Regions from separate parts of the Homo sapiens genome. Here region 2 is linked to region 1. The links come from fine-mapping of genetic effects on gene expression. A gene starts in region 1. The other region holds a variant in brackets. All regions are shown on one strand. Distances are from middle to middle. Region 1 holds the start of ADGRE3 (adhesion G protein-coupled receptor E3). Region 2 overlaps ADGRE3 (adhesion G protein-coupled receptor E3).

The links. PIP is the estimated chance that this variant, and not a neighbour inherited with it, causes the effect. A credible set is the group of variants that fine-mapping cannot tell apart.
Region 2: its variant is the best candidate, but not a certain one, in a credible set for the expression of ADGRE3 in whole blood (TOPMed, PIP 0.73).

Annotation. Positions count from the first base shown.
Region 1 is chr19:14,673,314-14,676,271 of GRCh38, forward strand. ADGRE3 (adhesion G protein-coupled receptor E3) reads right to left here and starts at 1,531. Exons shown (of 16, transcript NM_032571.5): 1 at 1,433-1,531. The coding sequence starts at 1,457.
Region 2 is chr19:14,646,856-14,649,355 of GRCh38, forward strand. ADGRE3 (adhesion G protein-coupled receptor E3) reads right to left here. Exons shown (of 16, transcript NM_032571.5): 8 at 326-510. Among named protein-coding and RNA genes, the nearest start is that of SNORA104, 26 kb to the left of the region's middle. The variant C/A (reference allele first, on the strand shown) is at 1,369.

The DNA.
Region 1 (2,958 bases):
TTTAAGCCTAATGCCAGGCTAAAGTAGCTGCTTAATAAATGTAAGCTTTGATTGATATTGGGACTATCAATATTGTTAATTCATCTGGAGCTGGAAAGATGGATGGGATTTCATCCGTACAGAGATGGTGGTTGAAGCCATGGAATTAGGAGATTCCCATAGGGAGAGGGAGTAGAAAAACAGAAGATCCCAGTAAGGATCCTGTGGGAGGAGCATTATAGCAAAGATCTGGAGACAGATGGTTTGGATTCAAATCCCAGCTCTCTTATTTACTAGCTGTGTGATGTTGGACAAATAACATAACCTGTGCCCCAGTTTTCTTATCTGTAAGATGAGGATACCCCATGAGCATACTGATGATGCAACAGATTAATACATGTAAGGTGCATAGTGAGTTTTCAAAAATGTTGGTTATCATTATTTTCTTTGTATAAATTTATGGGATACAAGTGTAATTTTGTTACACGCATAGATTTCATAGTGGTGAAGTCAGGGCTTTTAGAGTATCCACCATCCAAATGATGTACATTGTAACCATTAGGTAACTTCTTATTTTCCACTGTCCTTCTACTCCCTCAGCCTTCCCAGTCTTCATCGTCTATCATTCTACTCTCTATGTCCATGTGTCCACATTATTTAGCTCCCACTGATAAACAAGAACATGAGGCATTTGTCTTTTGGTGTTTGAGTTATTTCACTTAATATAATGACCTCTAAAATTAATAATAAAATTATCATTTATTTTCTTGTCACAGGAAAATGATAAAGGAGGGAGAAGAAAGAATAGCAAGAGAAAAAGGAAAAAAGTCAGGGCAGGGCTAGTTTGCAGAAGTTATCAAGAAGGAGAAGACATCAATTAGAAAACAAAACTTGCCAAGAGGAAGATGAACAACGTATTAGAGACCGGGTGCGGTGGCTCATGCCTGTAATCCTAGCACTTTGGCAGGCTGAGGCGGGTGGATCACCTGAGGTCAGGAGTTCGAGACCAGCCAGGGCAACATGGTGAAACCCCATCTCTACTAAAAATACAAAAATTAGCCAGGTGTGGTGATGTGTGCCTGTAATCCCAGCTACTCAGGAGGCTGAGGCAGGAGAATCACTTGAACCCGGGAGGCAGAGGTTTCAGTGAGTCAAGATTGCGCCACTGCACTCCAACCTGGGTGACAGAGTGAGATTCTGTCTCAAAAAACAAAACAAAACAAACAAACAAAACAAACAAAAAACCAAGCTACTAGATTGGATAGGAACATTTTAGGGATATTCGAGAGCATACTTTGAATAGGGTAGTCAGGAAGGAAACCACACTCCAAAGGGAAAAGGTGAGAGTGTTCAGAGCAGAAGAAAGAGGAGGAGAAAATAACCAATTGTTGAACCAAGTGGTCCCTGACTGGGGGATAGGTTAAGCCTCAGTCATTGTTACAGTCACACATACCTGGAAGAAGCAATGGTCCCTGCATTTCTGTGGTACGGGTATCCCACGCCAGCCAGCCCTGGAAGCTCTCTACTGTGCCGTAAGCCAACCACCTTTCCTAGCTCAAGAAATCCCATGAGAATTGAAGTATGTATCTTAGGTCAGCTGACTCATGAAATTGCTATCAGAAAAGCAAACTGCTTCCCCTCTTTCGCCATCAGACTCATGGTTCTGCTTTTCGTTTATTTGCTGTACCTTTTCTGCCTAGCTATTGTTGATCACCTTTGGGATGATTGAGTTGGTAAACCCTAACGAGGAAATGCCCTGAAAGTTACATCACATTGTCTGAGGATTAGGAAGTGCCTTTGGGGCCAAAATAAATCTTAAATAAGCCTGTGGCTTTGAGGTGAGTAAACCAGATTTTAGGGTGTCTGTGTTGGTATCTGAAGTTTCCAGAGGAGTCATTTTAACATATCTTTCTCTTCCCCCAGTAGATGATACTTACTGGTTATGATTGCTGAGCCATAAGAAGTTAAGAGTCCCAAAGTCTCATAGAAGGTAATACATTATTTGGTTATTTGGACCAACCCTAACCAGTCACAGGACTTGGGAGAAAAAGTCTGTAAATCTACCCTTCCTCCAGCAAATATTTATTTATTTATTTATGTGGGTCTTGCTCTGTTACCCAGGCTGGAGTGCCGTGGCACAATCATAGCTCACTGCAACCTCAAACTCCTGGGCTCCAGCGATCCTCCCACCTCAGTCCTCTGAATCGTTAGGACTACAGGTGCATGCCACCACGCCTGGCTAATTTTTTTTAGTTTTTATTTTTTTTTTTGAAGAGAGACAGGGCCTCGCTTTGTAGCCCAGGCTTGTCTTGAATTTCTGGGCTCAAGCAATCCTTCTGCCTCAGTCTCCCAGTGTTGAGATTACCGGTGTGAGCCACTGCACCCGGCTCCCCTGCTTAAAACTCTTCTGAAGCTCTTCATTAGACTTAAAACACCAGACTTCCTACTGAAGCAGTGTTGTTGTCTGGGGTTCATCCTCTCATGCCAAGTAAATCAAGGATGCGGATGCACAAGAAGTGAATTTAAGGCCGAGCACTGTGGCTCACCCTTGTAATCCCAGCACTTTGGGAGGCTGAGACGGGCGGATCACCTGAGGTCAGGAGTTCAAGACCAGCCAAGCCAACATGGTGAAACCCTGTCTGTACTAAAAATACAAAAATTAGCTGGGCATGGTGGCGCATGCCTGTAATCCCAGCTACTCGGAAGGCTGAAGCGGGAGAATTGTTTGAACCCGGGAGGCAGAGGTTGCCGTGAGCGAAGATTGCGCCAGTTCCTTCCAGCCTGGGTGACAGAGTGAGACTTCATCTAAAAAAAAAAAAAAAAAAGTGAGTTTCAGAGCAGAAGTTTAACAGGCAAGAGAAGAGAAAAAAGAGAAAAGCTCTATCCTGCAGAGAGAGAGGGGCTCCCAAGTGAGTCTTCTGGTCTCGTGGTGAAATACATGGGGTTTTATAGCCGAGCTTGAGGAGGAGCTGTCTGATT
Region 2 (2,500 bases), 27 kb before region 1:
CAACTCCTGGGCTCAAGCAATCCTCTTGCCTCAGCCTCCCGAGTAGCTGGAAGTATAGGAGCATGCCAACCTGCCTGGTTTAAATCAAGCTAATTGTTTTCTTCTTATTAAGTCTTCAAAGGCTGATTTACAAGATGTAAATCTGGAAATACTGTCTTCAAAATCTCGATTCAGACCAGCTACATTTCAAATGCTCAATAGCGACAGGTGCTCCTGACTACGACCCTGAACAGAGTGGGTCTAGAACCACAGCCTGGGATGATACACACATCGTTTGGCCTGCCTCCTTGAGAACCCACAAGCTCAAATCATACCTGTGACCCACCTTCACGTGCTGGAAAGTCAGCGTCACAGACTTGGAGAGAGACACGTTCCTTTTGGGTCCAATAGCAGCACTCACAACCTGAGAGTTCAGATACACTTGATCTTTCTTATCCATCTCTTCAAAAAAAGTTGCATTTATGATGTTTCCAAGAGAAGAATATGAGATAAAGGCAATGGCACTGGGACCTGAGGAAACAGAAAGATGGAATCTTTTTTCTTTTCTTTTCTTTCTTTTTTTTTTTTTTTTTTTGAGACGGAGTCTCGCTCTTGTCGCCCAGCCAGGCTGGAGTGCAGTGGCGTGATCTTGGCTCACTGCAACCTCCGCCTCCCGGGTTCAAGTGATTCTCCTGCCTCAGCCTCCCAAGTAGCTGGGATTACAGGCACTCACCACCATGCCTGGCTAATTTTTTGTCTTTTTAGTAGAGATAGGGTTTCACTATGTTGGCCAGGCTGGTCTCAAACTCCTGACCTCAGGTGATCCACATGTCTTGGTCTCCCAAAGTGCTGGGATTACAGGCATGAGCCACCATGCCCGGTCTGCCGTTTTTTAGAAGAGTTGTTCTCAGATGGAGCTTAAATCCTGTGATCCCTGGAGGATTCGTTTTAACAGAGTGCTGGCACCGGGCATGGTGGCTCACACCTGTAACCCCAGCACTTTGGGAGGCTGAGGGGGTGGTGGATCACTTGAGGTCAGAAGTTCAAGACCAGCCTGGTCAACATGGTGAAACCCTGTCTCTACTAAAAATACAAAGATTAGCTGGTTGTGGTGGCACATGCTTGTAATCCCAGCTACTTGGGAGGCTGAGGCTGGAGAATCGCTTGAACCCAAGAGGCGGAGGCTGAAGTAAGCTGCGATCACGCCACTGCACTCCAGTCTGGGTGACAGAGTGAGACTCCATCTCAAAGACAAAAAAAAAAAAAAAAAAGATGTTTTCCTACAAACAACCCACTTTTTGCATTTTCTGGAAACTTCAAAGTCTGGTAACACTGAGACAATGAATAATAATCTATTTCTTCCTACAAAGGCTGTAGGTACGGTGGGCA[C/A]CCTGGCTCGAATCCCTGGCATTCTTGGTTTCTTTAATATGCTGATTAATTCTGCTGTAAGCATCGGTGATTCTGCCTGGGAACTTCCATGGGCGTGAATTTGTGTTTGGCCTGCACAGAGGACAGGCTGGAAGAGCTTGAAAGTTCAGCCCCCGGAGCAACCCTCCACCAATGATAGATCAGAGCAGATGGACAGACGTCCTAGCTCCCTCTTCTCGAATGGGACAGCTCAGTGAGATTGAGCCCCAGGTACCCCAACAGCAAGCTGCTCACTCAGGTACCTACCTCATTGGCTGCCTTTACTTGCCTGTCTTACTTTGCCTCTTACCTACTGTGATAGTTCATTTTACATGTCCACTTGGTTAGGCCATGGTCCCCAGACATGAGGCATGGATGTTGCCATGAAGGTGTTTTAAAGATGAGATTAATATTTAAATCAGTAGACTGAGTAAAACAGATTGCCTGCTATAATGTGGGTGGGCCTTATCCAATCAGTTGAAGGCCTCAAGAGAAACTAGACTAAGGTCTCCTGAGAAAGAGGTAGTTCTGGCCTCAGACTCTCTTTGGATTCAAGCTGCACTATCAGTTCTACCTTGTGTCTCCTGCCTGCCTGCCCACCCTGCAGATTTTGGACATGTCGGCCTTCCATAGTCACGTGAGCCAATTCTTTAAAATGACTCTCCTCGTCCCTCCTCATCTCTTTCTTTCCTTCTCTCTCCCCATCTCTCTCTTTCCATCTCTCTCCCCCATTTCTCTCTCCCCATCTCTCTCTTTCGATCTCTCTTTTGATCTCTTTCCACATCTCTCTCTTTCCATATATCTCTCCCCATCTCTCTAATTCCATCTCTCTCTCCCTATCTCTCTTTCCATCTTTCTCCCCATCTCTCCCCATCTCTCGAATTCCGTCTCTCTCTCCACATCTCTCTCTTTCCATCTCTCTCCCCATCTCTCTCTTTCCACCTCTCTCCCTCTCTCTCTTTTCATCTCTCTCTCCCCATCTCTCTCTTTCCATCTATCTCTTTCCATCTTTCTCTCCCCATCTCTTTCTTTCCATCTCTCCATCTCGCTTTTGATCTGTCTCTTCCCATCTCTCGCTTTTGATCTCCCTCTGCCCATCTCTCTTTTTCCATCT